Homo sapiens: one gene and its partner. The protein of the gene in region 1 interacts with the protein of each later gene in a pairwise test. Each region holds a gene or a part of one and is shown on either strand. Other genes may lie near its edges. The genes, in order: KRT85 and CREB5.

What was found.
Region 2: the proteins of KRT85 (region 1) and CREB5 interact in binary tests that used the Homo sapiens proteins (3 or more experiments, as listed by UniProt).

Annotation. Positions count from the first base shown.
Region 1 is NC_000012.12:52,364,682-52,368,981, reverse strand, and holds the start of KRT85 (keratin, type II cuticular Hb5), read left to right. Parts: upstream 1-1,500; 5' UTR 1,501-1,576; coding exon 1,577-1,996; intron 1,997-3,811; coding exon 3,812-4,020; intron 4,021-4,300.
Region 2 is NC_000007.14:28,823,699-28,826,662, reverse strand, and holds the end of CREB5 (cyclic AMP-responsive element-binding protein 5), read right to left. Parts: 3' UTR 769-2,964; downstream 1-768. UniProt on the Homo sapiens protein: Binds to the cAMP response element and activates transcription.

The DNA of each region.
Region 1 (4,300 bases):
GCAGTTGCTTTTCCATGGATGATTATGATCTGCATATGTTCTAGGGTCAGCTGGTGAGACCACCTGCTCTTCCCCCACCAGCTGCCAAGGTCTCTCTACCCTGCCCTGAAGAACAATGTGGAATGTGGAGGTGAGGTGGGAATCGATCAGCCTGATCCTGGGTGAAGGTCCTGGGTGAGGTCAGCTGGCTGTGGAGATTAGAGCAGATGCAGGACAGAGTACAGGGCATTTCGTGAAGGACTTATGAGAACAGCAGCATGATGGCAGTGTTTGGTTATGGAAGGCTTCCTGGAGGAGGAGTCACCCTCTGAGGAAGCTCATCGGCTCTTCTTCCTTAAGTTCCTAACACTTGGGTGTCTGGCTAACCTTCCTGGGGGCAGACCCACATCCCCAAGGTTTGTACTCCATAAACATTAAAAGAATAGCACTTGTTATCCTAATAAGTGTCCCAAGGACACACAGGGAAGCAGAAACTAGAAGGATGGGGCTCCCAGAACCCCCAGGAGCCAGAAGTCATAGCCACCTTAGACAAGAATAAACCACTATCCCACTTCCAGCTTTGTGCAATGCAGTCTCTAAACACTCCTCTAGGGATGACAATTCAAGGGCTGGCCAACAGAAGGAATACCTCTTGTAGCTGGTGGTCTGGGAAGGGAGACTCACATGACCTGTTTCTTCTTAAAGAGCAAAGCAAAGGTGCCCACAGCAAATTTATAGCCCCCAGGTTATCCCAAGGTTGAGTTCTCCAATCCTTTTGACCGAATGGAAGAAAGTGGCTAGAGGGAGTCTCCCCATAATCCGCAAGTAGCCATTATTGTGGCCACTGAGAGTTCTGTGGTTTGCACTTTTGCTGGGTGAGAAGTGAAAGCTCTGGACCAGCGCCTTCTGGGCTGGAATCCAGAAGGTTCCAAGAGATCATCTGCCCCAGCCTTTTATCCTGGCACGGGCATGGTCAAAATGACCGCTCTGGTCCTGAACCACCTTCCAAGCAATGCTGCCTAGATGGGGTGGGATTCGCCTGACCTATTGGCCCCTGAAATGCAATGATTTACTTGAGAATGTGTCCTCTGTGGAACCAGATAGATGAATGCAATGATCCCCCAAGTCTCACCTAACCCAGGACCCTCCAACCTCTCCCTTGAGACAATGGCTCCTGCCTGTATCCCAAACCCAGCCACCCCCAGGCTGTTGTGGAGTTCAAATCCGTCTCCAAGTGTGGGTTGAGGCCATCTCACAGAAAGACTGTGAGAAAATTAATTACTTAATGTATGTAAACGAGCTTTGAAGATGAAAAGTTCAAATGCAGTCTCCTTAATAACATCTTCAAGACTTCAGGGAGCCCCAGAGTCGCTGCTGAGCTCACCTTTAAGATGAGTCCGTGGGGAGTTGCTGGCAAACTCCCCAAGCCCATAAACAACATAAAATGGCTTTCCACTCCTTTTATGCAGCCAACCCCAGCTCTCCCCACCAATAAAAGGACCAGGGAGGATCAGAGAGAGCAGAAGGATCCTGAGCCTCGCACTCTGCCGCCCGCACCACCTTCCGCTGCCTCTCAGACTCTGCTCAGCCTCACACGATGTCGTGCCGCTCCTACAGGATCAGCTCAGGATGCGGGGTCACCAGGAACTTCAGCTCCTGCTCAGCTGTGGCCCCCAAAACTGGCAACCGCTGCTGCATCAGCGCCGCCCCCTACCGAGGGGTGTCCTGCTACCGAGGGCTGACGGGCTTCGGCAGCCGCAGCCTCTGCAACCTGGGCTCCTGCGGGCCCCGGATAGCTGTAGGTGGCTTCCGAGCCGGCTCCTGCGGACGCAGCTTCGGCTACCGCTCCGGGGGCGTGTGCGGACCCAGCCCCCCATGCATCACTACCGTGTCGGTCAACGAGAGCCTCCTCACGCCCCTCAACCTGGAGATCGACCCCAACGCACAGTGCGTGAAGCAGGAGGAGAAGGAGCAGATCAAGTCCCTCAACAGCAGGTTCGCGGCCTTCATCGACAAGGTGGGTGAGGCCTGAGACGGCCCAGAGAAGCCTCCAGCCCTGTCCTCCCTTGGGGAGGTCCCAGTCTGCTGAGGAGACAGGATGGCTGCCGGTTTGAGGCAGCAGAGGGAATGACGTGCAGACCCATACAGGTGGAAGGGTCAGTTTCCATCACTTAACTCCCGCAGCATTTAACGAGGTCCAGGTGTGGTCTAGAAATTGAGCCTGTGATCCAAAGTGTGTGCATGTGTGTGTGTGTACATGTGTGTGTGTGTAGCGGTGTGTGCGCCTGTACGTATGTTAGTGTGTGGTGTGTATATGTGTGTGTGTACATGTGTGTGAGCATATGTGTGTGTATGCATGTGAGTGTGTACATGTGTGTGAGCGTGTGTGTGTTTCTTGAGCCAAGACGACATAGGACTATCAGAACTGTGTCTGAAAAACCAGACTGGGCAGCAGGTGCTGGAAGAGTGGGAGATAACGGGGAGACCAAAAGACCTTGTGGCTCCTAGCCAGGCAGCCCGTGAAGGGGCTGGGGTAATGCCCACAGCCATGCTGCCTCTCCCAAGTCCTTGCTGCATCACTCAGCAGTGTGAGACCCCAGGCAGGTTACTCTGCTGAATAACAGGACTGCCTCATCCACCTGTGAGGAATTAATGAGTCCATGCATGAAACATGATGGCAAATAGTCAGCACTCAATACATGTTAGCTGCTACTATCATTATTTTCCAAGGACAGTGGTAGGTGAGGAGGTGTGACAGCCAACCCAGGCCTGGCAGCCCCTTCATGAGAGAGGGCTGAAATGCAGACAGGGAGGTGGCCAGGCTGGTAGGAGGAGGCCCCCTAATGCAGCCAGAGTGTGGAGAACGCTGCATAGCTGTGAGGCTGCCTCCCAAGAAAGTTTTGTCGGGGGAGGCTGGGAGCCTCCTTCACAGGCTCCTCCTGTGTCCACAGGCCTCTAGCAGAGCAGAAGGAGCAGCTTTGGGGGCCTAGGATCAGGGTTTGGGGGCAGAGGCAGTCACCTTCACGTTTTCACTCTTTCTTTAGTGATCTGAGTCCATCCTCACAGTGACGGGTTGGAGTGGGTATCAGCGTCTCCACTTATCAGACAGCAACTTGGAGCTAAGGGGGTGTATACGAGCATCTCAGACATGCTGTAGGGGGAGGCAGAGCATGCCTATCTCAAGACTATCGCTTACCATGAGCTGGGCATTTCACACCTTGGGGGTCTCAATTTCCCCATGTGCAACATGGGGTAAGTAATATCTACATCCCACAGGGCTGTGATAATTGAATGGAATGCATAGTTAGATGATATAGACATAGACACAGACATTAGACATGGATGTGTATATCTTACCACAGGCCTTGGCACTAAGTAGTAAATATTTAATAAGTGTTTGTTGCATAAATGAGCAAGTGAAGGGCAACTGGTAATTATAATAATAGTTAAATAGACTGAGCATTTACTACGTGTCAGGGACTGTTCTAAGCACTTGATATGCATTAACTTGTTCAAGCTTCACAACAGTGCTAAGACAGACACTATTCGCTCCATTTTGGAAAGGAGAAAACTGAGCCCCAGGAGGTTAAACAACTTGCTCTCTAAAGTATCAAAACTGGGGCTCGAAACAGACCTTTGGCTTTGAGTCAGACTGCTTTCCCTCACACCCACAACTGCCTCCCTGGGGGCCTGGGAATGGGCCCCTTGAGCCGCAGACACTCAGCTTTATGGCTCAGCCCATTCAGCCAGCACCCGAGGGCAGAGAGACTGTGGGGGACCAGGTGCCTCCCCCCAGGCTCCCTCTGACTTCTTCTTTCCACCTGAATGGCAGGTGCGCTTCCTGGAGCAGCAGAACAAGCTGCTGGAGACCAAGTGGCAGTTCTACCAGAACCAGCGCTGCTGCGAGAGCAACCTGGAGCCACTGTTCAGTGGCTACATCGAGACTCTGCGGCGGGAGGCCGAGTGCGTGGAGGCCGACAGCGGGAGGCTGGCCTCAGAGCTCAACCATGTGCAGGAGGTGCTGGAGGGCTACAAGAAGAAGTGAGTGCAGCAAGCTGGGGGGACTCAGGGGAAACTCAGAGAGAATGCTGGGAGGCTCTGCCCATAGCCCTCTTGCCACAGCTTCTTTCAGATTCCTCTAGCAGGCTGCCTGGAACCCAGAGCAGATATCCAGTGGGGCCTAGATTTCTTCAGATTCCTGGGATTCACCTCTAAGACTCCACCCCTGTGAGCCTTAGAGCTACTTCTGGGGGAATGAAGAGAGGAAATCCAGTGGAATTCTAGCACTCTCTATGTCCCTGTCCTTCACAGCTTACCTTTA
Region 2 (2,964 bases), on another chromosome or scaffold:
GAATATGCTGGATTAGTGACCTCAGTTGGGAAGTTGGATGGAAGAGGCAGTGGGAATGTAGTGCTGGTCTGGGAAGGAGAAAATCTGATCTCCTTTTGTCCCTAGATAATGGTGACCCTGAAAAGGTAAGCCTTGGTTTATAAGTCATGAATGAGACTGTTATCGGAAAGGGGTCCCGGTCCAGACCCCAAGAGTGGGTTCTTGAGCTCCTGCAAGAAAGAATTCAGGGCAAATCCGTAAAGTGAAAGCAAGTTTATTAAGAAAGTAAAGGAAAGAAAGAATGGCTACTCCATAGACAGAGCAGCCCCGAGGGCTGCTGGTTGCCCGTTTTTGTGGTTATTTCTTGATGATATGCTAAACAAGGGGTGGATTATTCATGCCTCCCCTTTTTAGACCATATAGGGTAACTTCCTGTCGTTGCCATGGCATTCGTAAACTGTCATGGCGCTGGTGGGAGTGTAGCAGTGAGGACGACCAGAGGTCACTCTTGTCACCATCTTGGTTTTGGTGGGATTTAGCTGGCTTCATTACTGCAAACCGTTTTATCAGAAAGGTCTTTATGACCTGTATCTTGGGCCAACCTATCTCATCCACTGACTTAGAATGCCTTAACCTTCTGGGAATGCAGCCCAGTAGGTCTCAGCCTTATTTTACCCAGCTCCTATTCAAGATGGAGTTGCTCTGGTTCACATGCCTCTGACAAGACTATGTGAGGAATAGATGTCATTACCCCCAACCCCAAATTTCATCATACAAAGGTGACATATATTATTTGCATTTGAGTGCTTTATTATATTGGAATTGCAGTGATATTAACATTTGTACAAATGCACAAAATCTTGTCTCTTCTTGCTAGAAAGAGATGTAAAAATCTGACCTAGTTGAACAGTCTTAATGAACTCATTGTCCATTGGTAACAATAAATGTGTTCACGATGCAACAAAAAGCTTAACACAAAATTAAACATATTAAATGCTGCAGCAAGTATTTACATGTATGTACCCCTTTTTTTCTCCTTCCAATAAGGAAGGTGGTTGCTTTACAAATAGACAAACAAACACAAATGCTTTGCTGTTTACAAATACAAAGAACCCCAAGTCCAGAACTTAAAGTGACAGCACCTTTTTGGGACTTCCTCAGTTAACACTTACTTTACACAGTGCTAAACTTTTTTCTTTTAATTATATTTTTGGACAATATTTATATTCCAATTGTCCTAGAACATTGTATTTGAACTGAGCTATTTTTCTGGGCCTTTTCAGAGGATCCCAAACCCTATGTCCTCTCTAGAGAGAACATTTCAAGCTTATCTGTTCTCCAAGACAGTTCTCAAAGGCAACATTCCTTTCTCTATGAGGCAGATGTGATTTAGCAGAACTTAGAAGGGAAAAAGGTGAGTAGGTTGTATTTTCTACTGGCTGCTGGTTGGGAAGGGTCCTTTCTCTTAAACTCCCTCCACTCAACACAACTGATACCTTTCATTATCTCCTGTAGTGTCTGTGGCATTGGTATTCTAAAGGAGAAAACTAGAATCTAATGAGCTTATTGTGCATAAGATTTTAATGATGTATTTAAAGCTAATTTATTCAGCTTCCACATTCTCAGTCCTGAGGCTAAATTATTCTATTGTAAAATATCCAATCCTATAAAGTTCTATAATATGAAGCTCAATGTAAGAATATCTTAAATGGCTTAGAAGGAGCTTTCTAGATCCTGGCTTCTAATGAGCTAGATATTGTAAGTTGGTCTAAATACAACAGTTGGTAATTATTGATTCCTTTCTGATGACAAGTTGGAAAGGTATCAGAGTGCCACTTAAGAGTATTAATCTTTTAACAAGTGTTGGCAATTTGGCCTTACCCCCCACTTCAGCTGTGGTTAAATAGCTTTTTTAAAAAATAGACAATTTATAAGGAAAAAAATATATAAACACTCTTTAAGCAATTTGGCTACAAGCATTACATCACTGAAAAACTCCACAAGAAATAGTAAAATATTTTGAATGGACATTCACTTTTTCATTTTCACAACATGATGAGCTAGGTTTTTTGTTTTTTAAATTTCTTTGTGTTTGTTTTGGTATTGAATTTTACTTGTAAGTTTATTGCTGCTGTGTCGTCTTATCCTACCTTAGATTATAATTGTGAAATAGAGGTGCTGTCCCTAATTATGTTACAAGGCAACATTGTATTTTTGAGACCTAGGAATGAAATCGATAGGGCCACTGTTCTTTCAGTGGCCTCAGAGAGTCTATGGCTAGGACAACAGTCAGATGTGCACCAGGGTGCACAAAAGAATAAGTCTCCTGGCTTATTCAGGACACTTTGGTTTGGAAGGTGAGAGAAAATTCTTAAGTATAGCTTAGCTGCTGCCTCACATCTGTTGCATAATATAACATTTTTAAAAAACATGCTATGAATAAAGGGATAAAGAGTATAAACCATATAGTGTACTGGCTCTTCTCCTTGGCATTCTTGTAGTAGGCTTCACCTAGGCTGATGTGAGACACAGGTCTCAGCTGTGCTACCAATGGACGCACATAAATGTACCTGGTGCAAATATCTGTAAAGTATTTTAAATGATGCCGCTCAGAGCCTTGGAGGAGGGGTGGGGGGTATTGTAAAGGAGAGCAAAGGCAAGTTTGAGGACAGAGAAGAGGTTAGAAAGAGAATAAGAGAAATACAAAGGGATCAAAAAGCTAAAGTGCAATTTTTAAATATAAATTATTTTAAAAGCAGAAAAGAGATTCTAAATTGCTACTGTTCGCATAGGCACGGTTTTATTCAAATTTAAATGGGTTGTTTCCTTTCCCTTCTCAGATATACTGCATAATGGAGCTTGAATGGCTTAAAGCTACTGCATATTGTTCGGGAAGGGACAAAAAGCACTAAGGGAGCTGAATAGTGCAAGGCTTTCTAGGAAATTGGGGTGGGGTGGAGAGAGGCAGAGATGAAGCTGTTTTTA